Linked DNA regions of Homo sapiens. The protein of the gene in region 2 interacts with the protein of the main gene of each other region in a biochemical or structural test. Each region holds a gene or a part of one and is shown on either strand. Other genes may lie near its edges.

The links.
Region 1: the proteins of RAB5A (region 2) and APPL2 form a complex in vitro, tested with the Homo sapiens proteins (one study listed by BioGRID).
Region 3: the proteins of RAB5A (region 2) and OCRL form a complex in vitro, tested with the Homo sapiens proteins (2 studies listed by BioGRID and IntAct, with this or other methods).
Region 4: the proteins of RAB5A (region 2) and RBSN form a complex in vitro, tested with the Homo sapiens proteins (3 studies listed by BioGRID, with this or other methods).

The regions. Positions count from the first base shown.
Region 1 is NC_000012.12:105,183,924-105,191,353, forward strand, and holds part of APPL2 (DCC-interacting protein 13-beta), read right to left. Parts: intron 6,233-7,430; coding exon 6,068-6,232; intron 5,902-6,067; coding exon 5,849-5,901; intron 4,525-5,848; coding exon 4,350-4,524; intron 1-4,349. UniProt on the Homo sapiens protein: Multifunctional adapter protein that binds to various membrane receptors, nuclear factors and signaling proteins to regulate many processes, such as cell proliferation, immune response, endosomal trafficking and cell metabolism.
Region 2 is NC_000003.12:19,977,860-19,985,289, reverse strand, and holds the end of RAB5A (ras-related protein Rab-5A), read right to left. Parts: intron 6,981-7,430; coding exon 6,887-6,980; intron 5,330-6,886; exon of another isoform or gene 5,116-5,329; intron 1,583-5,115; coding exon 1,467-1,582; 3' UTR 115-1,466; downstream 1-114. UniProt on the Homo sapiens protein: The small GTPases Rab are key regulators of intracellular membrane trafficking, from the formation of transport vesicles to their fusion with membranes.
Region 3 is NC_000023.11:129,584,829-129,592,258, reverse strand, and holds part of OCRL (inositol polyphosphate 5-phosphatase OCRL), read right to left. Parts: intron 5,258-7,430; coding exon 5,141-5,257; intron 4,081-5,140; coding exon 3,996-4,080; intron 3,374-3,995; coding exon 3,246-3,373; intron 2,415-3,245; coding exon 2,303-2,414; intron 2,114-2,302; coding exon 1,989-2,113; 3' UTR 1-1,988. UniProt on the Homo sapiens protein: Catalyzes the hydrolysis of the 5-position phosphate of phosphatidylinositol 4,5-bisphosphate (PtdIns(4,5)P2) and phosphatidylinositol-3,4,5-bisphosphate (PtdIns(3,4,5)P3), with the greatest catalytic activity towards PtdIns(4,5)P2.
Region 4 is NC_000003.12:15,075,100-15,082,529, reverse strand, and holds part of RBSN (rabenosyn-5), read left to right. Parts: coding exon 1-163; intron 164-1,727; coding exon 1,728-1,798; intron 1,799-4,368; coding exon 4,369-4,455; intron 4,456-5,365; coding exon 5,366-5,468; intron 5,469-6,819; coding exon 6,820-6,924; intron 6,925-7,430. UniProt on the Homo sapiens protein: Rab4/Rab5 effector protein acting in early endocytic membrane fusion and membrane trafficking of recycling endosomes. Required for endosome fusion either homotypically or with clathrin coated vesicles.

The DNA.
Region 1 (7,430 bases), on a different chromosome or scaffold from region 2:
AGTCCCATATTTCTTAGAGGCTTTATTCACTCATTTTCATTCTTTTTTCTCTAATCTTGTCTTCACACTTTATTTCATTAAGTTAATCTTCAATCTCTGGTATCCTTTCTTCCACTTGATCGATTTGACTATTGATACTTGTGTATGCTTCACGAAGTTCTCGTGCTGTGTTTTTCATCTCCATCAGGTTATTTATGTTCTTCTCTAAACTGGTTATTCCAGTTAGCAGTTCCTATAACCTTTTATCCAGATTCTTAGCTTCCTCGCATTGGGTTAGAACATGCTCCTTTAGCTTGGAGGAGTTTGTTATTACTCACCTTCTGAAGCCTCTTTCTGTAAATTCTTCAAACTCATTCTCCGTCCAATTTTGTTCCCTTGCTGGCAATGAGTTGTGATCCTTTGGAGGAGGAGAGGCATTCTGGTTTTTGGAATTTTCAGCCTTTCTGTGCTGCTTTTTCCTCATCTTTGTGGATTTATCTACCTTTGGTCTTTGATGCTGGTGACCTTTGGGTGGGGTTTTTGTGTAGTCATCCTTTTTGTTGATGTTGATGCTATAGCTTTCTGTTTGTTAGTTTTCCTTCAGGCCCCTCTTCTGCAGGTCTGCTGCAGTTTGCTGAAGGTACACTCCGGACTCTCTTTGCCTGGGTATCACCAGTGGAGGCTGCAGAATAGCAAAGACTGCTGCCTGCTCCTTCCTCTGGAAGCTTCATCCCAGAAGGGCACCCACCAGATGCCAGCTGGAACTCTCCTGTATGAGGTGTCTGTCGATTCCTGCTGGGAGGTGTCTCCCCGTCAGGAACCACCAGAGTCAGGGACTCACTTGAGGAGGCAGTCTGTCCCTTAGCAGAGCTCAAGCGTTGTGCTGGGAGACCTGCTGCTCTCTTGAGAGCTGGCAGGCAGGAACATTTAAGTCTGCTGAAACTGCGCCCACAGCCACCCCTTCCCCCAGGTGCTCTGTCCCAGGGAGATGGGAGTTTGATCTGTAAGCCCCTGACTGGGGGCTGCTACCTTTCTTTCAGAGATGCCCTGCCCAGAGAGGAGGAATCTAGAGAGGCAGTCTGGCTACAGCAGTTTTATGGCGCTGCGGCAGGCTCAGCCCAGTATGATCTTCCTGATGGCTTTCTTTACACTCTAAGGGGAAAACCACCTACTCAAGCCTCAGTAATGGCGGATGCCCCTCCCCCCCACCAAGCTCGAGCATCCCTGGTCAACTTCAGACTGCTGTGCTGCCAGTGAGAATTTCAAGCCAGTGGATCTCAGTGTGTTGGGCTCCGTGGTGATGGGATCCACTGAGCAAGACCACTTGGCTCCCTGGCTTCAGCCCCCTTTCCAGGGGAGTGAACAGTTGGGACTCGCTGAGGTTCAGACGCCACTGGGGTGCGAAAAAAATTCTCCTGCAGCTAGCTCAGTGTCTGCCCAAATGGCCGCCCAGTTTTGTCCTTGAAACTTAGGGCCCTGGTGGTGTAGGCACTCGATGGAATCTCCTGGTCTGCGGGCTGCAAAGACAGTGGCAAAAGCCTAGTATCTGGGCTGGATAGGTCTGTCCCTCACTCACGGCTTCCCTTGGCTAGGGGAGGGAGTTCCCCGACCCCTTGTGCTTCCTGGGTAATGCAATGCCGCACGCTACTTCTGCTTGCCCTCCATAGGCTGTACCCACTGTCTAACCAGTCCCAGTGAGATAAGCTGGGTACCGCAGTTGGAAATGCAGAAATCACCTGCCTTCTGTGTTGGTCTCACTGGGAGCTGCAGACTGGAGCTGTTCCTATTCAGGCACCTTGTCTGGGAATCAATTTTTCTTTTTAAATCTTCTAATTTTCTGTGTGACCTCTAAATGGTCTCAGAACCTATTCCACTGCAGGGGTATGTTTACTGTGGTGACGTATGCATAACGTCAGATTTATCATTAGTGATGTTAAGTGTCTTCATAACTTTGTGCAGCCATTACCACTATCTAGTCCCAGGACATTTTTATCATCCCAGAGGAAACTCCATCCCCATTAAGCAGTTACTCATTCCTCCTCCCACCCTCTGGCAATCTCTAGTCTGTCTTCTGTCTCTATGGATTTGCCTACTCTGGATATTTCATATAAACAGAACCCTACAGTATGTTGCCTTTTGTACCTGGCTTCTTTCACTTAGCACAATGATTTCATCATTCATCCATGTTGTAGCACTTATCAGTCCTTTGTTCCTTTTTAAGGCCAAATAGTATTCCATCATATATATATACAGGTTGAGTATCCTGTATCTGAAATTGTTTTGGATTTCAGCTTTTTTTTCAGATTTTAGAATACTTGCATTATATTTACCAGGATGAGCATCCCAAAATCCAAAATGCTCCAATGAGCATCTCTTTTGAGCATCAAGTTGGCACTCAAAAAGTTTCAGATTTTGGAGCATTTGAGATTTCCAGATTTGGAATGCTCAACTCTACCACATTTTGTTGATCCATTCATTTGATGTTGGGCATTTGTATTATTTCCACCATTTGGATATCACGAAAAGGACTGCTATGAACATTTGCGTATAAGTTTTTGTTTGAACACCTGTATTTAATTCTTTTGGGTAACTACCCAGGAGCCCGCCAAACTATTTTTTCACAGCAGCTGAACCATTTTATATTCCCACCAGCAATGGGTTCCAGTTTCTTCACATCCTTGCTAAACGCTTATTTTCCATTAAATATATATATCATATATATATCATATATATCATATATATGATATCGATATCATATATATCATATATATGATATATCATATATATATCATATATCATATCATATATCATATCATATATATATCATATATATCATATATATATAAACATCTGTGAGACAGTGTGCATGCGTGCGCACGCCATCTTAATATGGAGTGACATATCTCATTGTGGATTTGTTTTGCATTTCCCTAGTAACACATAGCATCTTTTCATGTCCTCATTGGCCATTTGTATATGATCTTTGGAAAAATGTCTATTTCAAGTCCTTGGTCCATTTTTTAATTGGGTTGTCTTTCTGTTGAGTTTTATAAGAGTTCTTTGTATATTTTGTGTACTACATCCATATTAGATAGAATTTGTGAATACTTTTTTCCCATTCTGTAGTTTTTCTTTTCACTTTGATGTGCTGTGGTTTTTCACAGTACTTTTACATATATTTTCCTTTGATCTTTTTGGTGGAAATTATTCCAGGACCAATAGGATTATAAGAACCATGAGCCCATTTCTGTAAAAGGTCCAGGACATAGTGAAAGAACAGGTTTTATTAATAAGAACTTAATTCTCAGATAAGGTTCATAATAAATGAAAAGGATGGGCTTAATGAATGGAAGAAGCTATATCCTAATTTTTGCTATAGTCCTAGTTACCTTTTTTGAAGCTAACGTTCATTGAGCACTTTTCATGTGCCAGTGAGTTGTAAATGTCTTACATATATTAGCACATTTATTCCTCATGACATTTATTCCTCATGACAACAGTGGAGGGTGTGAATAGTTACTTTCATTTTACAGCTGAAAAAACTGAGGTACAGAGGCTCAAAAATTTGCTTAAGGTCACATAACTAAGAAATGCCGAAGCCAGGAATAAACTGAGACATTCTGGCTCTAAAGCAGTGCTGTCCCTTAGAAATGTAATGGAAGCCTTATATGTCATCGAAGTTTTTCCAGCGGCCACATTAAGTGAAAAGTAACAGATAAAATTAATTTTACTTAATCCAGTATATCTAAAATATTACCAGACATGTGATTAACCTAAAAAATTAGTGAGATGTTTTACATCCTAAATCTTAGAAATTTGGTATGTATTTAACACTGAAAACACATCTCAGTTCAGGCTAGTTTTGCTGCAGATGCTACCTGTGGCTACAGTATCATACACCCATGTTCATAACCAGGATTTTGGTCATATCTGAAACCCAGATCGTATTACCTGAAACACTAAATCATGTAGTTAATATGGCCTGCTCTCTCTGTGATGGCCAAGTTATTTAGGCAGATTTTTAAGTTTTTTTCCATTATTTTTTATAAATAGTACTCTCAGAAATGAAAAAAAAAAAGCAAAACCAAAAAACTTCCATTTTCAAGCTCTGAGCTATAATATAGAGAATAAGTCTAGTGTGATGGCATCTTTGTGAACAACAGTATTCACTCACCACTGGATTTTTGAAGATACCAGTTCTTGTCTCTAAGGGAGCACTTTCTAGGCTATCTATCTTATGTAAAAAGTAGTGGGGGCAAAAGCAAGAGTAGTCTCTTCATTCCAGTACTAACATTTCAGATGGGTGCATTAGCCTTAAAAGGGGAATTAGCTGAAGCCATAAGAAAGTCTGAAAATAAAACTGAACGTACCTCAAAGATTGACTGGTGACCATCAGATGGGATTCTGTCATGCGGAAGATGTTATGAATAGCCCGAGCAGCCAATACTTGTCTCATCGCTTCATAAATCACTTCAGTAGTGCTGTCTGTTTTAACTGCCATTGATCCCAAAAACCGAACTATAAACATCTGCTGCAAAAGAGAATCTGGAAGACAGCATTTTCCACTCAGGATCTCATTTACTTCCTGCTGCTGTTGATCTGCATACCAGGGTCAGATGTGCTAGTTTTGCCTGCTTTCTGTGGAGGACTTTCTACCAAAATTTCTCAATACCACTTTTATAAGCCCAATATTGCCAAAGCTCTGCGTCTTCCATTTGTCTACATCTTGTCAGTTTGTTTGGAACTACTTCATTAGACTAGAAAGGCTTTTCTTCATCTATAAAATGAAATGATGGTGGTACCAGATGAACATCCTTCTAATGCTGAAACTCTAGGTGACTACATTGTACCTTTTCTCTGAAAAGAGTGAGTTCACTAGACAATAGAAAATTCATTACTTTGGCCCACTGATAAAGTCCTCTTAGAAAAGAAATTTTATTTGCAGGATATAAGATCTCATGTTGGGTCTCATGCAATTCATACTTCATGTGTATTACGGAAAGGCAGTGATGATGTTTCATAGCCTAAAGGAAGTCAGTCCTGGCTGCTGACAGTGGCGCATAACTTGACAAAACTGACTCCCAGCAACCATAACTAGAAGACCAAAGAAGGTTTTTTCTTTTTTTTCTTTTTTGAGACAGGGTCTCACTCTGTAGCCCAGGCTGGAGTGCAATGGCATGATTTCAGCTCACTGCAACCTCCGCCTCCCAGGTTCAAGTGATTCTCATGTCTCAGCCTCCTGAGTAGCTAGGATTACAGGCACCTGTCACTACACCTGGCTAATTTTTGTATATATATATATATTTTTGTAGAGACAGGGTTCTCACTGTGTTGCCCATGCTGGTCTTGAACTCCTAAGCTCACGTGATTCACCTGCCTCGGCCTCCAAAAGTGCTGGGATTACAGGCGTGAGCCAGCGTGCCGGCCATCAGATACGTTCTTAAGTACATTATAAGAATGTAAAAAACCAAAAATTTGAATTTGAAAGACTTAAATATCATTTGTGTCATCTTCAAATTCAAGAACAAGTTATTTGTGCTTTTGGTTTTCTAAAATGACACAGCGTATTTCCAGTTCACCAAGACTGCATTTGAATGTGATAACAGATTCAGATTTCACAACATTTCTATGCTATGCTACAAAAACGCTATGGCTAATGGTGAAATAGCTGTAGGTGGTCTTTCAGCTACCCCTCAGTTTTTATCCAAGACTTGCCTCCACTGCAGATATCTTACTAAACTTTCAGAACAACAAATCTTAATTCATACTCCTAATCATAGCTCTCTAAAACATGATTTCACATCTTATTTCAATGGCCGTTGTCATTTTGTGCAGAGGAAAGAATAAGGACACCAAACTAGTCACTTACCTTCTGCTTCTGGAAATGATTCATCCTCAGTTTCACCAAAAGGGTTGGTACGCCTAGGGGAATAGCCAGAGTTGAACAAACACGACAGCTGCAGCTAGAAGGGCACTTAACACTTGAACTGGAAATCAGAATGGCAACAGTCTTTGGTGGTGGAGGGGGACACAAGATACCTCAAATTTACTTTCAGTTCTCCCAGAGATAACCTCTCTCAGCCCATACCTGCTCCCTCTGTTCTGATCAAGGAATTCTGTAGCAGGAAGCACAATATCGAATTGAATCGGCGTTCCAGGCGCGATCAGCTCCTCTGCTTCAGGTAGACTGGCTGTTGCTTTGGGAACAATCTTGTCATTTTCATTTTCCATCTCTGAATTTTTCAGGTTCTGGCTGAAGGGGAAAAAAATCAATTCCCTTAACCTTACGCTTTTATAATCAAGTGAATACTTGTTGAAGGCTGAGGTGACTTTTATGAATGAAAATACAAGGGGAAAGATTGACCTCAATCCCTTAATCCATTCTACAAATAAACCTTCTTCAAACTTCCTTCATATCCTTGGCTAAAAACCTTCAGTCTGCCCCATTTCCTGCAGTTCTCTCTGCTGCACAGCATCCTGCACTGTGTTACTAGTTTTCTGTCTGTATCCTTCTCTGTGAGGCAGGTTTTGGAGGGCCTATGCTATAGCTAAGTCATATGTATTCTTGGAACATAGTAGGCACTAAAAAATGTTAGCTGAATGAACCAAAGGTCCTGGCTTGGCATTTAATCACCATCTGGCTCTAATTTCCCCAAAAGCCTCCCTTTCCACTCCTTTAATGCACCCTCTACGAGAGCTGTACCACACATACCACATGCTTTTCCTTATTTCCATCTTTATCCCAATTCTGCTGCTCACCCAACTCTCCCAACCCAGCTCAAATTCTTCCTTATCCACTAGGCCAGCCGGCACCCCGCCTCCCTCCTCTGAACTCCTGTGATTCTTCTCAGTAAGTCACAGGCACAGTCTTGCGGCCCTGTGTGCCTCCTGAGCTTCGCATTGTGCCCACACTCATTGCTGACATTGTGGCCCATCAAATACTGTGCTCTCTGTGGACAGACTAATCAGGAACCAACATGTTCTTCTCCTCCAGTCTCAGAATACTGTAATTTAACTTTTCAACGTTTTAAAAATCTTTTCTCCTCAGCCAGACTATAAACTCCTTTGAAGGGCAAAGAATATCAATGTATTTTGATTTCTTTCATTGCCTGGACCTTAAAAAGCTCTCAGTGATCTTTCTGTTCATTTGATATGTCAATATTTTCCTATTTCTCAAACATGTCAATAACTGAATGTAGTGTATCAAACTACTTTACAACAGGCATTTGACAAATGATCATAATGACTGGAATGTGGATGAAACAGTACATAGGCTTGTAGATGGTCACTGCAAGGCAAGCCCTTGGAGACCACTTGGTCTGACCTCCATTGTTAACAGAAAAGGAAACTGAGGCCTCTGGAGAAATTGAGCAGTTTTGAAGGCACTCAGTTACCTGGTGGGCGAGCCAGATTATAAACAGGGGTCTCCTCACTGCCAGGAGAGTGCATCT
Region 2 (7,430 bases):
ATAATTTTATGAACATAGTAAAGAAAATATAAAAGCGGATACTAGGTCATATAGTATCATTTATATATATTCACTGTTTTATGCCAAAAAAAAGGAAAAGAGAAAAGCCGATACTTGCTTTTTATACCACTTTATTCCAACCTGAGCACCTCAATATAAAACTAAACACTGGTGAACCGTTTTCCTAATTCTGCATTATCATAAATGTACAAGTTCTCCTAGCAGTCCAACACTTAAATAGATTAAATCATCTCTGACACATGGTAGCTTTCATATAATGAAAATACCTAAAATAATTAGTGCAATATACTGAACTGATCAAAATAAAATGAACTTTGGAAAGGAAGGCTGCAAGATTGTTACTAACATATTGCAATACTTTATGTTACAAATTACGGGTACATTGTTTATTATGGTTCTAGCCATGGAGGAACAACTGAAGCCCCTTCCTGTCAAAGGGGGAGAGAGAAATAATTAGCTGTTTTAGTAACAGTACATTTTGTATGCTTTTAAGCAACTCTTAAATATTACAGAAAAGTAATACAGATATGGAGACTACAATGCAGTACCCTATTTACAGTACAGCTGAAGATCGAATTTAAAATAATCAAGTTTGAATATACATAATTGTTAGTGCATTGACTATATTATGTCAAAAGGGAACAAAAGCCCCCTCCCCACCCCAAACAACAAAACCTGTGTAATGGCCAGCGGTGATTAATTAGAAATCACAGACACCTGGTTTATTTCATTTTTGTTAAAGAACTCACATGTTTGAAAGGAACACTGACCATTAAGGTGCATTTATTAGTTCTCAAAATTCCTAAAACAAGATGGGGTTGCATTTGATTTTTACCCCATTTAAAAAAAAAAAACCAGACTGGGTATAATTAAGATACCATTAATACTCTTCCCCACCCCTGACCTTGTATATGTGGGATTATTTTCTTGTGGTTAATTTATTAAAATGTGGAATGTACATTTTAAATACAGGTACCAGGAGAAATGAACATTTGCCTGAATACTATGGCTAAGCATCATAAATAACTTTAGAATCTCCTTCTAAACAAAGAATGTTTTTGAAAAGCCCAAATTAGTAAGTTCCAATTTTTTTTTCACAGGTGACTACTGTACCAGTGTGGAGAAATGGGCTGGTTAACTGTGTGGGCCCAGACAGTCATTTGTCTATATTCCTAGTGATGAGAAATTATTCCCCCTAACCTTCCAATGAAACAAGTGTCCACATAGTTCTCATTTTTCCCTATTGTTGAAACATTAGTGAGAGGGACCCATGCATGTTATTAAAAATTAAGTTCAAAACACTTAAAATAATTCTGTATTAGAAACTTGACTCTATCATAAGTCTCTTCTTTTGGAAGTCATACTGGGCTGGTTAAATGCTCCAATTCCATTGTTATTAACATTTAGGAAGCAGAAGACTATTCCAGCTAGTTCAAACTAGAGGTTTAGTTACTACAACACTGATTCCTGGTTGGTTGTGTGGGTTCGGTAAGGTCTACTCCTCTTCCTCTGGCAGAATTTGCTCCTGGATTTTGTGGTTCATTCTTTGGCAATTTTTTAGCTGAAAGAAAATGATCAAATAAATAGAATATTTGAATACTCATATTAATATCAGTTTCACCTGCTTATCTATAATTTTTCTTTCCAGTTAGGTTACCCCCAAAGTATCATATAACCATATGTTCATTCTTTTCAAATGTTTACTGAGTATTGAATGCCAAAATATTGGTTGCTGTCTTAGGGAGTTTGATTTCTGGGGTAATTGTGTTGGGGGAACGGTAGATGGGGACTGGTTGTAGATACAATTAAAACTTAAGCCTAACTAGTGCTTTATGTAATTCTCTATACCGATTCACTCAATAATACCAGAAAAGTTCTATTTTATTTTATACTCATTATTACTTCTTTTTTTTTTTTTTTTTTGAGATGTAGTCTCACTCTGTCACCCAGGCTCACCTAGGCTGGAGTGCAATGGCGTGATCTCAGTTCACTGCAACCTCCACCTCCTGGGTTCAAGTGATTCTCGTGCCTTGGCCTCTCGAGTAGCTGGAATTACAGGCATGCCCCACCACACCCAGCTAATTTTTGTTTTTTAGTAGAGACGGGGTTTCACCATGTTGCCCAGGCTGATCTTGAACTCCTGACCTCAGGTGATCCACCTGCTTCAGCCTCCCAAAGTGTTGGGATTATAGGCGTGAGCCATGGCACCTGGCCTCATTATTACTTCTATTAAATAAAATCTAAGTCAATAAAGATGATGGCCAGCCAGTAAGTTTATAAAGAAGCTCAGCTCATATCAGCGTTCTCTAGACTGCCACAAACATTTTTTAGAACAAGTCAGGATACAAATACCTTTGCAATCATCACCCCAACAAAACTTGTCCTCTACTGTGCAACTAATTATCACCCCGAATTGTGATAGATCATATCTACTATTTCCTTCCTGGCTTCCACAGCCTTTGGCCTTAAAACATCTATATACATGCTCTCTTTTTTTTTTTTTTTAAGAGACAAGGTCTCACTCTGTCACCCAGGATTAAGTGCAGTGGTATGATCATGGCTTACTGCAGTCCTGAGTTCCAAAGTGAGATGGGGTCTCACTTTGTTGCCTAGGCTGGTCTTGAACTCTTGGGCTCAAGCAACTCTTCCGCCTCAGACTCCCACGTGCTGGGACTGCAAGCATGAGCCACCATGCTCGACCGCTTAGTTTTTAAAAGAGAAACTTACACCTTGCAGAGTAACCATCAGCTGCCTTCAAATAAAGGGGAAATAGATAAGAGTTGCATTTTTGAGAATGAACAATTATAATCTATGCTTTGGGCAAAGGAAGGACAGATAACACCCAAGTTAGATGCCTGCATGTGTCAAAACTTAGCATACTGGAGGAAACATACTCACACACAAACATACCTTAGCATGCTAGTGGAAATACACTTAGACACAAACATATCCACATACATTTATACATACTCAACACTTCGTTGTGATCTTAGTTTGAATGTAGCCTGCAGCCATACTTCTTTTCATTTTGGAGACAAGGTCTCCCTCTGTAGCCCAAGTTAGAGTGTGGTGCATCAATCATAGCTCACTGCAGCCTTGAACTCCTGGGCTCAAAAGATCCTCCCACCTCAGCTTTCCAAGTAGCTGAGACTACAGGGTGTGCACCACCATGCCTGGCTTTTTTTTTTTGGTAGAGATAGGGTCTTGCTCTGTTGCCCAGGCTGGTCTAGAACTCCTGGCCTTGAAGATCATCCCACCGTGGCCTCTCAAAGTATTGGGATTATAGGAGTGAGCCACCTCAACCAACCTCATTTTCTCCTTTTATGGGCTGATGAATCCTAATCTGACTGACCAGTAGCTGTACCTAATCCAGATAGAATTATCCTGAAGACCTCATCTCCAAAAACTATTTCTTAATTTTATTTGAGTCCGATGAGTGTGGCTTGTCAAATTCAGACAACACTCTCAACCAGCAGTTACGGCTTTACCTCTGCCAAGCTCTATACAGCTAGTGGCTGTTCTCTGGAGTGTGCTTCCCACTGATTAAAAAAACTTACCTGCTGGATATACAGATGCTCCTTGACTTACAATGGGGCTACATCCTGATATATCCATCCTAAGTTGTATGTTTTTGATTTATGATTTTTTTTTTTTTGAGGCGGAGTCTCGCTCTGTCACCCAGGCTGGAGTGCAGTGGCACGATCTCAGCTCGCTACAACCTCTGCCTCCTGGGTTCAAGCAATTCCCCTGCCTCAGCCTCCCAAGTAGCTGGGACTACAGGCACATACCACCACACCCAGCTAATTTTTCTATTTTTAGTAGAGACGGGGTTTCGACATGTTGGCCCGGCTTGTTTCCTGACCAACTCCTGACCTCAGGTGATAGCCCGCCTTGGCCTCCCAAAGTGCTGGGATTACAGGTAGTGAGCCACTGCGCCCAGCCTGATTTATGATATTTTTAATTTATGATGGGTTTCTGTATGTAATCCCGTAGTAAGTTAAGAATGTACTAAATGCATATCACTTTCACCCCATCGAGTTATAAAATCGTAAGTCAAACCACTGTAAAGTTGGAGATTGCTGTAGTTTGTTTTAATACATAAGATCCTTGATGTGCTAAATTCATTTTTTGAGGGGAGGCAGAATATTAAAGATGACTAAGAGTACTGATTTTAAGAGTGGCTGCACACACTGATCTCTATCAATCTTGGGGACAGACCACTATGGTAAGACTCTAACTTTACCATAGCTTTGACTCAGGTTACTCAGAAATTGAATACACTCTGCTTTGAGATCGGATTGCCTAGTTGCATTGTGAACCTTTTATCCTTTATTTGTTCTACACATTCCATTCTACATCAGCATCAATCATTTTTAGAATCCTAGATGCTGGGTTGGGCAATGGATTTGGGAGCCAGGAGCACTGAAGTTTGGAAAGAAAGCCTTCAATTGGGCCACTTCTCTGGGACTGGCTCTGGGCTGGTAGCATAAATAGCATTATAATGGTAAATCTCCAGTCAAATGTATTTACAAGCAAAGCCCCAGAAATGTTGAACACTGGTACCTGGGACACAAAATAGCACTATATATTGTATATAATAACAACTTAGGTTCCAGATTGAGTAATCAATCATGTATCCCTTTAGCATGTTCCCTAAGTGTTTAAATCAGAGGTGAGTGAGATTAAGAGGATGAAGGAGGTAAACTAGAACGAGTAACTTTTTAGTCCTTGCATTGATTAGAGTTGTTATGAGTGCACTGTGTGATTTAAGTTACTAATCTATCAAAGTGTTCCTTCATAACAAAAAAAAAAAGAAAAAAAAATTTACTAACCTAGTGAAGGAAATGGAAAGGCCACAATTCCATTTACAACATAGATTTTCTTTTAAGAAGTGCAACATTCTGATTTCAGAAAAAAACAAAAAACTAAAATATGTAGGCTGCTTTCTAACTCGAAAAATGACTTTATTAGCATGTTTGAATAAAAAGGTACAAACTAAAGCCCATCTGGTAGAGTTTAAATATTGTGAGAAAGGTTTACAGTGCAGGCTGATTTGAGAGGCCTATTAACTCATTGTTTCCTCTAACTTTTCAGATGTGATTCTGGGTGTCATCTGTCACATTTGTAAAATGAGTATATTATCACACAATCCTTCGCAACTGTGCCAGCACTTCCCTAGCAAACTGCAAACTTGAGTTTTTCAGGAAAACAGTTTACATGAGAAAAGGCAAGTTCTTTCCCATTTCGAATGAAGTACCATTAAACTCTGTCACCTAGTGAAAAATAATAAAAATACTTGCAACTTTTACTGGGTTTTCATTATTCTCTGATTCAGCTATTAACTATTTATGAGTTCAATTTAAGAATATTTCTTACTTGGGGTTAGGACTGTGAACACCCCAGTTAAGAATCAGTGCTGTAAAATAAAAGGTGTTATGGGATGAGAAGAGTGCTGGGCACATGAAAACCACAGACGGCAAACTTTGAGAACCACCAAAACAGACCCTTCAGGTAGAATCTATACATTAAAACCACTGGAAAGAGGAAAGGGTTAAAAAAAAAATCCAAAACCAAAAAACAAAACCAACCTTTATTTTTGTTATAGAAAAAAGGAGGCTTATTACTACTCCAACTTCATTACTTATAACTGAAACAGCAATTACCATCAGTTAAAAGTACCTTAGGGCCAGGGGCAGTGGCTCGCGCCTGTAATCCCAGCACTTTGGGAGGCTGACGTGGGCGGATCACAAGGTCAGGAGATTGAGACCATCCTGGCTAACATGGTGAAACCCCGTCTCTACTAAAAATACAAAAAAAATTAGTCGGGCATGGTGGTGGGTGCCTGTAGTCCCAGCTACAGGAGAGGCTGAGGCAGGAGAATGGCGTGAATCCAGGAGGCGGAGCTTGCAGTGAGCCGAGATCGTCCCACTGCACTCCAACCTGGGTGACAGAGCAGGACTCCATTTCAAAAAAAAAAAAAAAGAAAGTACCTTAGGCTGGGTGTAGTGGCTCACGCCTGTAATCCCAGCACTTTGGGAGGCCGAGGTGGGCAGATCACGAGATCAGGAGTTCGAGACCAGCCTGACCAACATGGTGAAACCCTGTCTCTACTATAAATACAAAAATTAGCTGGGCGTGGTGGTGTGCACCTGTAATCCCAGCAATTCAGGAGGCAGAAGCAGGAGAACCGCTTGAATCCGGGAAGTGGAGGTTGCAGTGAGCTGAGATCGTACCATTGCACTCCAGCCTGGGCGACAGAGCGAGACTGTCTCAAAAAAAAAAAAAGTACCTTAAAGCAACAGCAAGAACATTGTGTAAGATCAAATGACCATCTGAGGTAATATAAAGTATGGATGTTGTTTTGTTTTCCTTTTTTCTCCTTACGCCTCTATGCTTTGAAATCATCTTCCTTATAATGTTTACATTAAAATAATTTGTCAATCTGTATACTTATGTGTCATGTTCTTCTGAGTTATATTTACCAATAATTTGATTTTTAAAAAGTATAATCTAATAAAAAAAATATTTATCCAAATTTCCCAGCGAAACCTTTGCAAAATCTGTCTGTCTGAACTATCAGGTTAAGAGGTTAAGGCTTAACTCACCTGGAAGAAGCTGCCTAAACTGACAGTATTACAACCTAATAGGTAATCATCTTTCAAATTTAACAATATTACCAACAAAATATTGTTTTGTGGAAGGGACTTAGAAAAGTGGTATAATCTCTCTCTCTCTCTCACACACACACATAAACATACACACAAACCCACCCCCAAAAATTTTTTAAAAAAGAGACAGTCAAACCAAATATGCTTCACACTTGTTTTGCTTATATTGATCATTTAAAAAGAGATATTAATCTTACCTATTGCCATGAATATTTCATTTACATTCATTGATGTTTTAGCGGATGTCTCCATGAATAATAAACTATTGTCATCTGCATAGGACTGTGCTTCCTGTTTACAGAACAAAAAATGAGATATATGAGATATATCTCTTGGAAATACACTACACCTGCTTTAAACTTGTTATAGAAAAGGAGACTTTCTTATTACTACAACCTGATTCCTATAATCATCTATAATCAACAACTATATAATAAGCTACAACAGAGGTAAGAGCACTGTGCAAGATAATTTTATAATGGACTATTTCCTTTTTTGTCTGAAATTCTTGCATTATCCCACCTTGATTAATCTTTTCTTACATTAAATCTGCTTTCAAATACTGAGTTCCAGAGATGGGGGAGAATTATCTTATTCTAAATAAAACTCTCTTTGATCTCAACGGCAATTTTTATTTGCACTTACTGTCTGCAATGAAGACAAAGGGAAACCAAATATCTAACACTGGCTTCAAACACTAAATGACAACCTCATATTTAATTTTCAATGACTTCTACAGCA
Region 3 (7,430 bases), on a different chromosome or scaffold from region 2:
TACAGGTTGGGGTGCTGGAATAGCCATGGTAGGGAAGCAGATTTCTTCTGTCTGGGTCTACATCTTGTCTCCTCTACCTAGAGATTGTCTAAAACTCTCAACTCTGTATATGTTCCAGGATGAGCTGAAAAAAGGTCGAGGCAGTACACCAACTTAGTGTTTTGATCTGATGTAGAAAGAGATAGGATACTGCATACGTGCAGCACAGAGCCTCCACTAACCACACCCTTGATCACCCAAAGATCCCAGGTCAGTGATATGCTAGAAAACAAGCCCAGGAAAGGTATTTCCCTGTGGTATGACCCTACCCCAGTGTCTATCATCTGCCTCTTTTTGTGATCACTTTCTGGCCTTGCGGAGATGACAAACCTGTTCTGCTCTCAGTCTTCCATTAACTAAGTTCAACACCTAGCCCCTGACCTATCATACCTCCAGATCTGTGGCACCAGTAACTTGACTCCTATTGCTTTAACTCTCAATCAGGAAAGGGTTTAGCCATATTGCAGAATACGTACCTTCCCCCCCACCCCCACCAAGAAACAGGAGAAATCACTGGTGGTGCCTTGGATATGCTAGAAATGTCACAGAGTCAATGCCCAGGATTGTACATACAGCCTGTACGTTATGCTCCTTGCAATTAATGTAAACAGGCAAGGGTGGTTGTAACAAAAGAAAACCAGGAGGAACCCAACTGCATCAGGCAGTTTTGCAGTCAGTGGTTGGTGGCTTGTTTGTCAACCAATATAGATTAATTTATTTTAAAAAAAGGCTGTACCACAGAGCTTGAATAAATGAAAAGCTCAGAGGGTCATCTTGTATGGGAGAGGTAAGGTGCTTGGTTGGTCCTGTTGGCCAGTCTCTTTACACAACACTGGATATGGTGACTGGGAGCCAAGGGGAGTCTCTAAACCCTTTATGTGAAGGAGCTGGTTGTAGAGCCCAGAGTCAGTCCTGCTGAGGAAGGAGGTGACATCTGCCCTTGGTATTTCAGAAGACCAGAGAATGGATTCTAAGGGTCATCCACAATACCTTTGCTGTGGGAAGGAGCAATAGCTCTAGATGGGCCTGCCTGAGGTACAAGACTTCCTCTTTTACTGTGGGGCCAGTGTTGCTCTGGAGGTGGATGTCTAGGCAGGAGATGGGTCTCAGAGACACCCAGGATTAGTCCTTGTGTAAAATTTGAATAATAACAGGAAAAGGATAGTGGGAAGCAGGACCTGTCAAACATGAATGCTCTCACTCTTCAGATACTCAAAGTGCTTCCATTCTGATTGTGATTCTCTCTCATCGATGAGATGCCATCTCTAATAGTCCCTACAGTTATGCTACTAAATGTGATCTAAGAGAATATGGTTCCACCCAGTGTGGAGCCATGAAAAGGCCAATGTTACAGAGACATAAAGATGCCATTGTAGTAGAAATGCACAAATGCATGTAATAACTGCACGCAGACAGTGAATTCACTGTTGAGGACACCCAAGGAGTCACTAGCCTCACTCAGACTTCGTTCAAAGTGACAGAACGAGGGGAGTGGAGTGCAAAGGAGTGATCCAGGAAGGGGTGGGTCAAAAGTGCAAAACAAAGGACTCTAGACAAGTCTCAGCTACAGCAAGTAGTGCTTGTAGGCCTAGAATGGGAAGATCTCAGAATCTAGGCCTAGGGTACTAAGGACAATCATGACAATTGGGTAGGAGGGCAACAAACACATCCCTAGGTGAAGGAGTGTAAATACAGATCTTTTTGCCTTATAAAGAGAAAACACAAAAACACCAAAATATGGTAACTTTGGCTTGGCAATATAAGTCTAAAAGTATTTTTCTGTGTAGGATATGGTAAAGGAGGGATTAGGAAACGCTCTTCCTTTTTACTATAAACAGAACTTGAAATTCTGCAATAGACCCTTCCTGTGGCATGACTTTTTAAATCATTCTGAAATACTTGGAGCCCGAGATCGTCTGCTTCTAGAATATCAGAGAACAGTAAAAGCCTTAGTCTTCTTCGCTCCCAAGCAGAAAGCCCAGAAGGAACTGAATAGCACGCTGGCGGTCACTTGGAGTCTGTCTTGCCATAAGGTTGGGTGGAGGCCTCAGGAGAAGACTAGTGAAGAGAGTAGCTACAAGACGAGAGAAAGACAAGCGGAAACTTCTGTCAGACATAACCTAAGCAAAACCTCAGGGCTGGAGGGCCTGGGGACAAGGACTATTGACTGCCATGTGCCTGCATATGCAGTAAGGTATATACTGGATACAATGCACTAAGAGTATTCTCAACAAACGCCCCGTGTTGCATGAAGCACTCTTACCGATCATGTTGGCATTGACGCTATTGTATTCAGAGAATTTTAAGAGTTCTCGAAGGAATGCCATCAAGTAACGGAAAACATTTCTATGGCATCTCGGAAGCTGGGAGATCACCTGTTTTTAAAAATAGGGGCAGGCAGTGAGAAAAACAGGTGGAAGATGAAAGTAAGAGGAACTTACAGCTGCTGTAATAGTAGTCTATAATCCAACCCTTGCAGGACCCATTTCATCTGTCTAACTTCTATTATCTCCTCATGGCCAACACAATACCTTCCAAATTATAACTTCAAAGTAAGAGTGGCCGTGCTGTTTGGTCCCTGTCCACTCAATGACCAGGCCACGTGGTCATCACACATTCATACGCACACCCTGCCTCACAATAGGTCAGTGTTCATCTGTTCTTTTCCCATTTCCGTAGGCATGTAGCCACGGCACCTACCAAGCTGAATGGTTTTCTGTTCTTTTTTGTTTGAATGGTTTTCTTTACAATGTCACTTAGCATGGATGGGGACTCCTCTCAATACTCACTAGTCCAATTCACAGGTACTGTCAGCTACTGTGCATTAAAATCATTTCAGGATTAAAAACACACACCAAGAAGAGAAAAAGAAGAAAGGCTCCCAAGTGTCACCCATCCTTCCTGGTAATGTCAGCCAGAATTCCACGTACAATCAGCTTCACCAATTTACCCCAGAGTAGAGGGATCCACCCCACTATGTTTTCTGTAAACAGAAATAGGCCAATGGGAAAAAGGTGGCAAATATCGTAGGAAACAACACAACCTAAAATTTAAGGGTAGCAACTCTCAATGTTGGTGTCCTGCCATTAATAACAGATGCAGACCCATCCTACCAGACAGCTGGCTGCCTATCTGGCTCTGTAAAACTGACGACTTCTCTATGGGGCAATCTGCGTCAAACACATCCCCAGGTCAGTAGAACCCACCTGTCGGCAGATCCGGGGATCATAAGCAGAGTCAAGACATCGCTGATACAGCTCGTAACAGATGACTGGCTCTGGCAGGGCTTCCAAGAAAATGAGCAGTGCTTCAGCCACAGAGTGGTTGCTGCCAGCTGAATCAACTTAAGTCAAGGGAAAGGAGCTCCAGGAGAAAGGCCACACAGAGCCCCGACGAGCTCCTTTCCTCAAGCTCCTACAGGGACTGTTTCCCTCCTCTTATTCAGGGCACATTGATCCTAATGGGGGTTTGATATTTTATTGATTCAAGTGCCCTGCAGGTGAGTTGTTACAGAATTGGTCAAAGACTCTTGGCAGCTTTGGCCCAGCTTCAGGGTCAGGGGAATATAGCCTGCAGAGTGACAGTTGACACTGGAGCAGTCCTATAAACCAGGTGCCCATGTTTCCCATCCTTCTCCCTGCCCTGTCAACAGTACGTGTGGTGGCAGGAGTGACTGATCACCTGAAGGAGAATAGTACCAGTGCTGTGGCTTCTATGTCCCATGCTTTTAAGTCATTGTTATCTACCCCTTGCTTCCTTTTAGTAAGAGCTGGATATGGAAAGAGGTCAAAAGTTCCTGAAAGGAAATGAGAAACAAGTGGATAGTCAGTGGTTATCTTATAATAAAAGATATTACAAAGAAAATAAATATAGAACCACAAAAATCAAATATAGGTGCGAAGAAGAGTTTGATCAAGTACTCATCCAGCTTCTTAAGCTTTGGTCGCAAAGGATACGGATTGTCTCAGGAATGCTGGTATCCAGACAATCAATGATCTGCTGGAGCTCTTCCTGCATTCCAGGGGTCTGGAACAGGTCCTCCTACCAAAGAAGTCAGAATGAAGGGACAGGCAAGATAATCACTCCTGAGGTTATGATGATTACCCAAGGATCAGAAGAGCAGCAGGAAGCAAAAGGGAAGGGTGGTATGTGTGTTAATAATTACAAATGGAGGTGTGAAAATAACACATTTTTCCTTTAGCATTTCTCTAATCCATGTGAAATGTTATTTCAAATAGGAAAATGATCTTTTCAAAGGTTTTAGCCTGTACCTAATAAGGCAGGGGACTAGATGGCTAGAGCAGGAAACCAGGTGTTCTAATTCTAGCCTCCTTTAAAATTTTTTTTTATAGAGATGGGGTTTCACCGTGTTGCCCAGGCTGGTCTCAAACTCCTGAGCTCAAGCAATGCGCCCGTCTCTGCCTCCCAAAATGCTGGGATTACAGGCATGAGCCACCATGCCTGGCCTACTTGTAGCCTCTTGACAAGCAGCAGAAGGCAGAGTCCAAACAGAATAACCACATTCAAATGCTAGTACTACTGAACGCTGGGGAAGGAGGAAATCGCATGCTCATACTAAACCTTGCTTTCAAGTTACATTATTCGTCAGTAGGTAAGAGAACATTACCTTTCAATTTAGTCCCAAGAAATATCTCTTTTGGGGGCGAATGAGGTGGGGTGGCATTTTAGTTAGGATTTAAAAGAAAAATTAGGACCAAGTTAAAAAATGGGTTTAAAATCTGCTTTGGATTTTACAATCTCTAATGCCTACATGACTCATAGCCAAAGTAGGCATTATAGACTCAGGTGTGCAGCTGTCCAGGGAAAATGAGAGGGTAGCCAGGAGACAGGTGCTCTTAATTTGGTCCTGGCTCTGCCACAACTACACTTAGGCCTTTGTCTTAGTAAATAACTTACCTTTACATGCTTCAGCTGTGACATCTGTGACTAGGACACTTCCACCCACCCAGTCGATCTGACAGTGCCACTGTGTGCAGGTAGCTTGGGAAAGTTAAAAGCGCTATGCTGACGTGAGGTGTTGTGATTTCCTATAGTAGTTACACACCTTCCAAAGTTGTAGGGAAGGTCTACTCTCACTTACCTGGTGACAGGCGTATTTGAATAGGTGATCTACTAGAAGCCAGATCTCCTTGGGAACCTGAAGGGGTCTCTCACTGGCACCTTCATCCAAAGGAACCATTTGCAGAAGGGATTTCTCCTAATAGATGGAAAAGTATGAGAATCAAAGGGGTCTCAGAATAAAGACTTTGGTGTATAACTTAAAGTCCTTCAAATTCTGGTCATGCAGGTAAAATGTGATCTTCATCTCTTAAGATTTTCCATTTCTTCTCACTGGGGACACTCCTGGTCAGAAGGCACTTGATAGCGAGTCCCATAGTTAAAGGATGTCCTTTCCTAAATGCTTCACTTAATTGTTCTGCATTTCATTTGCGTTTATGATGTTTATTACGTGGATGCCTTGTGTTTAAATCCTTTCAAAGGTGACACTGAGAACCAGTGCTCCGGTGATACAGTCACAGTGGAGTCCATACAGCACTGGTGACTTGGGGACTATTAAATTACAATTGTCAATACAGTAGTTTGAGAGATCAAGGTCTACACTTAGGTTTTTGTTTATTTCTAACTTACTCTTCCTTCAGGTCTTACCACAGATACTGTTGTTTGTTTTCAATGTTGATTTAAATTAGCTTCTTTAGTTTTCAGGAATTAAAGACAACTCTCCACAACATTAGACCCACATATGTAAATACTTCAGGCTTGATGGAAGTTCTAATCTTAAGGTGCTAAAACTCGTAAGCCTTAAGGTCCAAAAATAGTAAACTGAATACAGCTAACCAAGAGGCAGAAATACCACGAAAAGTTTAAGGTCTGAGTCCAGAAGTTACAGTTTCTAGGAATAGCTCAGCCAAGATTTCTAGGGGCTTTTACTCCTTTCATCTATCTTTCTACTATCTGTTATATTCTTCTGAAAGAATTTTGTAAGAGAAAAACCCAGAAGTGACATAAATCAAATCAATCACTATATGTGAATTGGAAATGGCTAGGAAATAAACTCAGTTATCTTAGGTTCATGTAATCAAATATAAATTACATGAAAAAATGTTTGAAATAGTAAAGGCACCTGAAGGCACCCTTCATAAAAATCCCAGTGGAGAGAACCATGACCAATTTTTTTGCATCCTCCTCCCTCCCCCGCCTCTAGCTTGAGGTCATATATATTCTGTATGTTTAACTAAGAAATTCTTGCCTAACATTGTGCAACTTGTGAATTCCATCCACAACCCCCAGTCACGTAGCTTTAAAAGAAAAAAAAAGGAGCATGTCACTACTTTGACAGAGACCACATACACTACAGCCGAGCTGAGGTCTCTTCTTAACATTGTGTTCTTTAACAAGCACTGATGACCTTTAAAAGCTGCTGTGCCTTTCCAAGGGAATAAGAAAGAGAAGGGAGTGTGACAGTTGGTTACCATTTAAAATCTTTCTTTTTTTTCCCCACATTCAGTTTGCTTCCTTTCTTTCCCTGGGATTCTATCACTTGATATTCATGTTCCTAATAGTTGCCAGAATGTCTATCAATGGCTCATCCATTTACTTCTTTCCAGTTACAAATATCAAATCCAAGCATCCACATGGTATTTGAGACAAAACACTGTCCATCATGCACTCTGCTAACTCTCTGGACCAAATGCAGCACGTGTACTGATTCTTTAGCAGATGCCTCCAAACTTGCCATATAGAAATTATGCAGCACTGATTCATGTACTTTTTAAAAAGTCTGACATCCAACTGGAGCTTTTCCTGTACTAAGGCATTAAGGCAACACAAGGCACTGCCTAAGATAAAAAGACAGAACATGGACTGCTCTTAACAGGGAAGAGCTAGGAAGCACAGCTGTCTCAAACCTTGGTGGTTTAAAAAGGTTAATAAAGTGTCAGTAGATTATATACACCATCCACTATTCATTTTCAAATTCCTGTATGATAATATGGAATGCCACAGTTGTGTCTCCAAAGTCTAGAGAAAGATCATACACAGAAAATACTTGAATAATTTCACAAATTATCCTGAACTCTAATTTTCAAAGGAAAACCAAGGTACTTTGTCTTCTTTCAACAAGACACATTCAGCGCCTGATAAGCCCACACTCTGTAACCTTACTTAGTGTTAATAACTAAAGCATGAAAACAGTATACCATCCCCATCATCAAAAGGCATTAAATTCCACCAAGTGGGTACAGTGCATGACTTCAGCAAGTTTTTCAACCTTTCTGGGCCTTGGTTGTCTCATCTATTAGAATGGAGAAAATACCCTGTCTGAAGGTAGAGGCCTGAACCAGATGATCTTTTATGATCTTGTTCAGGTCCAC
Region 4 (7,430 bases), 4.9 Mb from region 2:
CCGCCGAGGCAGCATCAGCAGCATGAGCAGTGTCAGCTCGGTCCTGGATGAGAAGGACGATGACCGGATCCGCTGCTGTACACACTGCAAGGACACGCTGCTCAAGAGAGAGCAGCAGATTGATGAGAAGGAGCACACACCTGACATCGTGAAGCTCTACGAGGTGATTCGCGCTGTCTGGTCTTGGGTCTAATTTCTTAGGCAGATTTGGCTGTTTGTTATGTACACTCCTGCAGATTCTGGAGAATGCTTTGGGAAGTTGTTCGTTTGAATTATTTGTAGTTCCTGTTAAAGGCCCATGTTATGATTTCCCAGCTAGGGCCCTGTGTGAGTCAGAGTCATCCTGGGTGTGTTGCAACAAACTCGTTTCAAGTGGCCTTCCTTGGCCACTTGAAAGCAGGTGGGTGGAAGCTTTGGTGGCCCAGAGGCAATAGGAGGAAGGGCAGTTGCCATGTGGTGTAGACAGGTTCTGTGGGAAGGGCAGAAGCTAGAGATGTTCATAAACAGTGGGCCAGAAGAATCCTGGGAAACTCACTTGGGAGTGTTAGACTTTACAAGTTTTAGAAAGTTCTACAAGTTTTCAGGCTTCACCAGTTTACTGAGTGTCCCCTTCTAAGTTTGTCCAAATGCCTCAGCTGTCGTTACTTGAGTGATCCCACAGCCCCCCTACTAGATGCATACTCTGAGAGGAAATAGTGTGCAAAGAATATCTGGGAGTGAGACTGGCTTGGTCCCTTAATGGCCAGGTGAGACCTGTGAGCTGAGGAAGACTAGCCAGGTGGACTGGGTGGGGAGGCAGTAAGAGATGCAGGGAAGAGATCAGCCCAGGCAGAGGAAGCAGCTTGTGCAACATTCTGAACAGAGGAAGAGTGTAATTTTGCCTAATGACCACTGAATAGTCATTGTTAGTAGTTCTGCAGGTCATAATGGCACTGTTTCTGGAATCCCTATGTAAATACTCAGGCTACTAGAAATGGTGTCAATTAAGCCCCATGTTGGGTTGCAGATGTAGCATTCTCCATCCTTTGTGTGGAGTTCACGACCTGGTATCTCATTTCTGTGAATACCCACGGTGCTTGTGCCACCTCCTCTTTTGAAGTAAGCCCTGGCAATGCCTTGTGCTGGTTTCCCATTGTTGCCTGGCATCACTTGGCAGAGAAAGAAAGTAGCAGCTAATTCCTTTTTGTCTTGGTAGACACCTTGGCTTGTGCCCTGGAAGCCTTGCTCCTCTCAAAAACATCTCGCCGGGCACTTTGGGAGGCCGGGGCAGGCAGATCATTTGAGGCCAGGAGTTCGAGACCAGCCTGGCCAACATGGCAAAACCTCGTCTCTACTAAAAATATAAAAATTAGCCGGGCGTGGTGGCAGCGTGCCTGTAATTCCAGCTACTCAGGACGCCGAGGCATGAGAATCGCTTGAGCCCAGGAGGCAGAGGTTGCAGTGAGTGGAGATCGCGCCATTGTACTCCACCTTGGGTGACAGAACAAAATTCCTTCTCAAAAAAAAACAAAACGAAACATCTGATCAGAAGCTCCATTCTCACTTTCTTTCCTTCCTACAAAATTTTCTGCTTGGAAAGTATGCCTATAAATCAGGAAATTGATAACAACAATTAATGTGTTAGAAAAGTGAACATTTTAAATATAGCTCCATTGATGGAGCCTAGCTTCTGGGTAGGTGTTTCTATATCTTGAGCATACCACTTACCTCTTTGTTTTTGTTCTTAGAAATTACGACTTTGCATGGAGAAAGTTGACCAGAAAGCTCCAGAATACATCAGGATGGCAGCATCATTAAAGTAAGCTATTCATCTATGTTTTTCTAATCCAGTGGTGACTGTTTTCTGGCATTTTAGGTCAATTCTCCAGTAGCCAAAAATGAAAATCTTAACTTCAACCGTGCTTTTTTTCTGAGACCAGCTGAAGTTGGTTTTTTTCCACTTTTGGCTATTATGAAGAGAATCATCTTCATGTCTGTCTTTTAGTGGGGTACAGGCTACCATCACATGAGCTTGTAGAAAGACAGCCACATTCAGTTGACCTTGGCTATTCTGACTGAGCAGGTTTGGGAAGGGCCTCAGACAATAGGTACTGCTGCTGAGTGCAGCATCTGGACAGAGCAGAGGAAGGGCAGTGGGTCTCATGCTCATGTCTGGGTAGATGCCACTTGAGTGTCACATTGAGGTGTCAGGGCTTAAAGCAGGCATGACCATTAGAGCAGGGGCTGGCAGACTGCAGCCCGTGGGCCAAATGTATCCTGACATCTGCTTTTTTTTTTTTTTTTTCCGAGACGGAGTCTCACTCTGTTGCCAGGCTGGAGTGCAGTGGCGTGATCTCGGCTCACTGTGACCTCCACCTCCCAGGTTCAAGCAATTCTCCTGCCTCAGCCTCCCAAGTAGCTGGGACTACAGGCACGCACCACCACGCTCAGCTAATTTTTTTATATTTTTAGTAGAGACGGGGTTTCACCATGTTGGCCAGGATGGTCTTGATCTCTTGACCTCGTGATCCACCCGCCTTGGCTTCCCAAAGTGCTGGGATTACAGGCGTGAGCCACCGTGTCTGGCCAACATCTGCTTCTTTTTTAAAATTGAGATGTAGTTCACACACCCTAACCTTTACCCTTTTAAAGTGTACAGTTTGGTGGTTTTTAGCGTATTCACAAAATTAGCGAACATTACCACTGTCTTCATTGTAAACATTTTTATCACCCCAGTAGGAAACCCCATACCCATTAGCAGCCACTGCCCTTTCCCCATCTCCCTGGACACCACTAATCTATTTCCTGTCTCTATGGATTTGTCTGCTTTTGACATGTCATATAAATAGAATCATAAATATAAAATCTCTCTTGTCTGGCTTCTTTCACACAGTGTACTGTTTTTCAGATTCATCCATGTTGTTGCATGTATCAGTACTTCATTCCATCTGTATGAATGCATTGCATGGATACTTGTCACATTTTGTTTATCCATCAGTTGATGAACATTTGGGTTTTTTCCACTTTTGGCTGTTATAAATAATGCTTCTGTAATATTTGAGTACAAGTTTTTATGTTTTTTGTGTAGACATGTTTTCATTTCTCTCGGGTAGGTACCTAGGAGTGGAATTGCTGGGTTTTATGGTAACTATATATTACCATAGAGTAACATTCCATAGAGGAATTGCTAAATCGTTTTGTGGAATGACTGCACTATTTTGCATTCCCACCAGCAGTGTATGAGGGTTTCACTTTCTTTATAGCCTTACCAACACTAGTTATTGCCACCTGTTTGCATAAAGTTTTATTGGAACACAGCCATGCCCATGTTTGATTACTGTTTGTGGCTGCTTTTGCACCACCATGACAGAGTTGAATAGCAGCAACAGAGACTGTGTGGCCTGCAAAGCTGAAAACATTTATGATTCGGCTCCTTATGGAAAAAATTTGCTGATCCCTGCTTAAGATCGTTGCTTTTTCTGAAGCTTAGTGTTTGTAACCTAGAAGTTAAAGTGCTAACTACTAGAGTCAGATCCCAGCAGTGTTTTCCCAACCTGTAGGAAAAGAATTAATTATGGTATCTAGTGTTATTAATTTCAGAGTTTTCTGTCTTTGTCTTAAACCTGTGTTGCCTATCTGCCACATTTAAAGCGATGCATGTAGTAGTAGATGTGCCTTTTTTAAAAACAAAACCATGTGTATATATATATTTAAAACAAAACCATGTATATATATATATATATATATATATATATATATATATATATATATGTATTTTTTTTTTTTTTTTTGAGACCGAGTTTTGCTCTGTCGCCTAGGCTGGAATGCAGTGGTGCGACCTTAGCCCACTGCAACCTCCGCCTCCCAGTTCAAGCAATTCTTCTGCCTCAGCCTCCTGAGTAGCTGGGATTACAGGCACCCACCACGATGCCTGGCTAATTTTTGTATTTTCAGTAGAGATGGGGTTTCATCATGTTGGCCAGGCTGGTCTCGAACCTCCTTGGGTACTTTTGAGCGAGAAAAGCCAAGTAGCTTTCTGCTCTTAATGTAGTGTAACCACTTCTTACATCTTGTTAGATATAGTGGAATTGTTTAGGAAAAGTAGGCCAGAGTAAATTCAGCCGCATTTGTTTTGGTGATGAGCATAAGGGCTAGTCCTTGGAGGCCTTGGCATGAATCTGTCCCTGTTGCGTCTGCAAATCGAAACATCACTTCCACTTGATTCATTCATTCCAAGAGATGGACACTGCATTATATCTGAAAGTCTGAAATGCCACCTTTAGAGAATTAACTGCCTTTGTGAGGCCTTACACCTTTAGCGTCCTTCTACACTATGCTGTCCAATCTGCACCATGAAACTTAGGTCACGTGTCTCTGGTTTCTCCTTAGTGCTGGGGAGACAACCTACAGTCTGGAACATGCCAGTGACCTTCGAGTGGAAGTGCAGAAAGTGTATGAGCTGATAGACGCTTTAAGGTAAGGTCCATTAAGTGGTATCCTGCCCGCTGGTGGAATGGAGAAGATGCTGTTCTAATGAAATGGCGAAAGCAGACCTGCACTCACTCAGACTTCTGGTGATGGGGCAGTGGGTGAGGAGGAGGGCAAGGAAGGGGCCAGCTCTGGCACTTAATGCATCTCAGTGACTTTTGTTTCGTTAAGGATTTCTAATGTTTGCTATTATTAAAGAAAGAGGAGCTGGTTATTGACACCTATCACCTGCCAGTCACTGGCTGTTTTCTCTAGAATAGCTCATTTATTCTACTGAAGTTACCCTGTGAGGTAGGGATTAACATCCTGTGTCAAAGGTGAGGAATCATGTCACAGATAGCAAAAATTGTGGAGTGAAGATAGAAACTCAGGTTCTTTCTTTGTGTCTGTGCTCAAGTCCACAGCTGCTTTTTAACTGTGGACTGGCCATTGGGGTTAAATTAGCCAGTGACTCAGAGGGAGAATAAGATGAGGTGCCTTTGTCCATCCAGACATACAGCAGGAGTTCGTAGTTGCAGGGCCTGGTACAAAATGAAAATGCATGTCCCCTGTTCAAAAGTTATTAAGAATAAAGACACTAACAGCAGAGCATTAAACCAAGCACAGGGCTCTTTTAAGTGCCAGTCCTTTCCAGTTGCATAGGTTGCTCACCTGTGAAGCTGGCTCTGCATGTGTAGTCAGTCACTCCATAACAGTGTTGTGCGCCCTTTGCTAAGGCCTGTGTACAGCCAAAGGGTAAGAAATGGGCTTTGCCTTCAAAGAAACTTCAATGGAGTCACTTGTCCATCTTTACACACCTTCCTGGCATGAAAGCCTGGCAACTCCAGATGTTATACTTTTCACCCTTGTTTCTGAAGCTGGCAGTGCTCATTATATTCATGTGTTTGTTCCAATTCAGTAAGAAGATCTTAACCTTGGGCTTGAACCAGGACCCTCCACCACATCCAAGCAATTTGCGGCTGCAGAGAATGATCAGATACTCAGCTACACTTTTTGTGCAGGTAAAGCCATCCTGGGTTGGCATAAATGTTGCACTTGGCCTGTCCTGCTCTTTTGCTTCCCAGGAGGCAGATCCATGCCAATGACTTGTTTACTTCCTATTTATACATTTATTATTTTTTGAAATTATGAATGCATGATGCCACACTTAGAGAAAAATCTGGATTTCAGAGAAAACTAAAACTACTTTTAATCCTATGTCCCCATTACAATCACTCATTATTCTGGTATGTTTTCTTTTTTCCCATTTGTATTTTTTATATACAGTAGTTACGATACTGCATATTGACTGTATATGCCATTCTTTAACCGTTTTCCTTTAGTTGGACATTTGATAGACTAATTTTTTGCTGCTGTTAAGTGTTGCCATGATAGTAATAATGGTACTTAGTATTTCTTCCTTAGGATAATCTCCTAAGAGACTCTTCTTGAGCCATCAGCTGGGAGGAAACAGCCGATTAAGGGCAGACTAACCTAAGTGGTTAGATCTGAATTGTGTCTTTCTATCCCTGAAGGCCCCTTCTGAGAGAGTCACAGTTAACCACTCTTGGGGCTCCCTGATAAAGAGATCTGTTTTTTTCTTTTTTTTTAAATTAAAACAAAGTGTTTTTTTTTTCTTTTATTAAATAGAGACAGGGTCTTACCATGTTGCGCAGGCTGGTCTCAAACTTTTGAGCTCAAGCAGTCTGCCCACCTTGGCCTCCCAAAGTGCTGGGATTATAGGCGTGAGCCACTGCACCCAGCCAACAAAGAGATCTAATAGACAGAGTCCTGTCAGGTTAGTTTTCTAACTCTGTAGTATAGAGAAGTAGGCCCTTCCTCACTTTGATTAGTGACTCTATTCAGCAATCATTTGTTGAGTGCCTCCTATGTACCAGGTAGTGTTTTAGGTGCTGGATGTCCTATAGTGAACAAAAAAGACCAACGTTCCTGTTCTCATTAAGCTTATGTTCTAGAGAAGGAGAGAGATCATAAACAACTAAAATATCTAGTATGTAAGATAGCAAAAGTGCTCTGGAGAAACTTACAGCAGGGAAGTGTGGGAGAGAGGGCTGGGATTGAGGTTTGCTAAGTTAATAGGATGGGCAGGGACAAGACCTCATAGAGAAGCTAACATCTGAGCCAGGTGAATAACTGGGATATCTGATGTTGATCATTTCATAAGGAAAATGCAGGCCCATTTGGAGTTGACTGTCTCACCCAATATGAGTTCTCTCCTTTCTAGCTGCTGTCAAATGATGTCACTCTCTGAGAACAGAGTGGCTCAGCTTAAGCAGACTCTCATCATGGGGCTTAAGGTTCATTTTTTCTCTAAAAGGGTTTAAGTGTAAAATTGTCTGTCACTCCCTGCAGGAAAAGTTGCTTGGTTTGATGTCACTGCCAACCAAAGAACAGTTTGAGGAACTGAAAAAGAAAAGGAAGGAGGAAATGGAGAGGAAGAGGGCCGTGGAGAGACAAGTGAGTGAAGCCAGGGATATGGGGCCTGCTTCCTCCTGTGGCTCTCAAGCACAGAGGCTGCCATGGGCTCCCAGGTTGTGTGCGGTTGTAGTGAATCAGAACCTCTCTCTCAAATGTGCATATTTCTTCTGTTGTGTTTCAGCCTCACTTTCATCTATGGGAACTAGAATAATTGTTTTTCTCCCCAGGGCCTATTTTTCTTTCAGAGCTTCTGCTGATTCTCTCATGGCTAGAATACCACAGAGATTGACAGTTCTCCCTATGGCAGGAGTTGCAGAGGACCAAGACATTAGGAAGTTCCTTGTAGAACATATCGGTATATGCAATATTAAACAGAAAATTATATGTGTATTTAACGCTGCGTGAGATTCCAGTGTAGATGAGGGGAACAGACCTTAGAGGTTTAAGAAAAGTATACGGCCTGTGAATCTAAGATTGAGAAAATCTGATGCCCTAACTTATTCATTATATTTTATTTTTGAAAATCAGGGTCTCCCTTCCGCCCA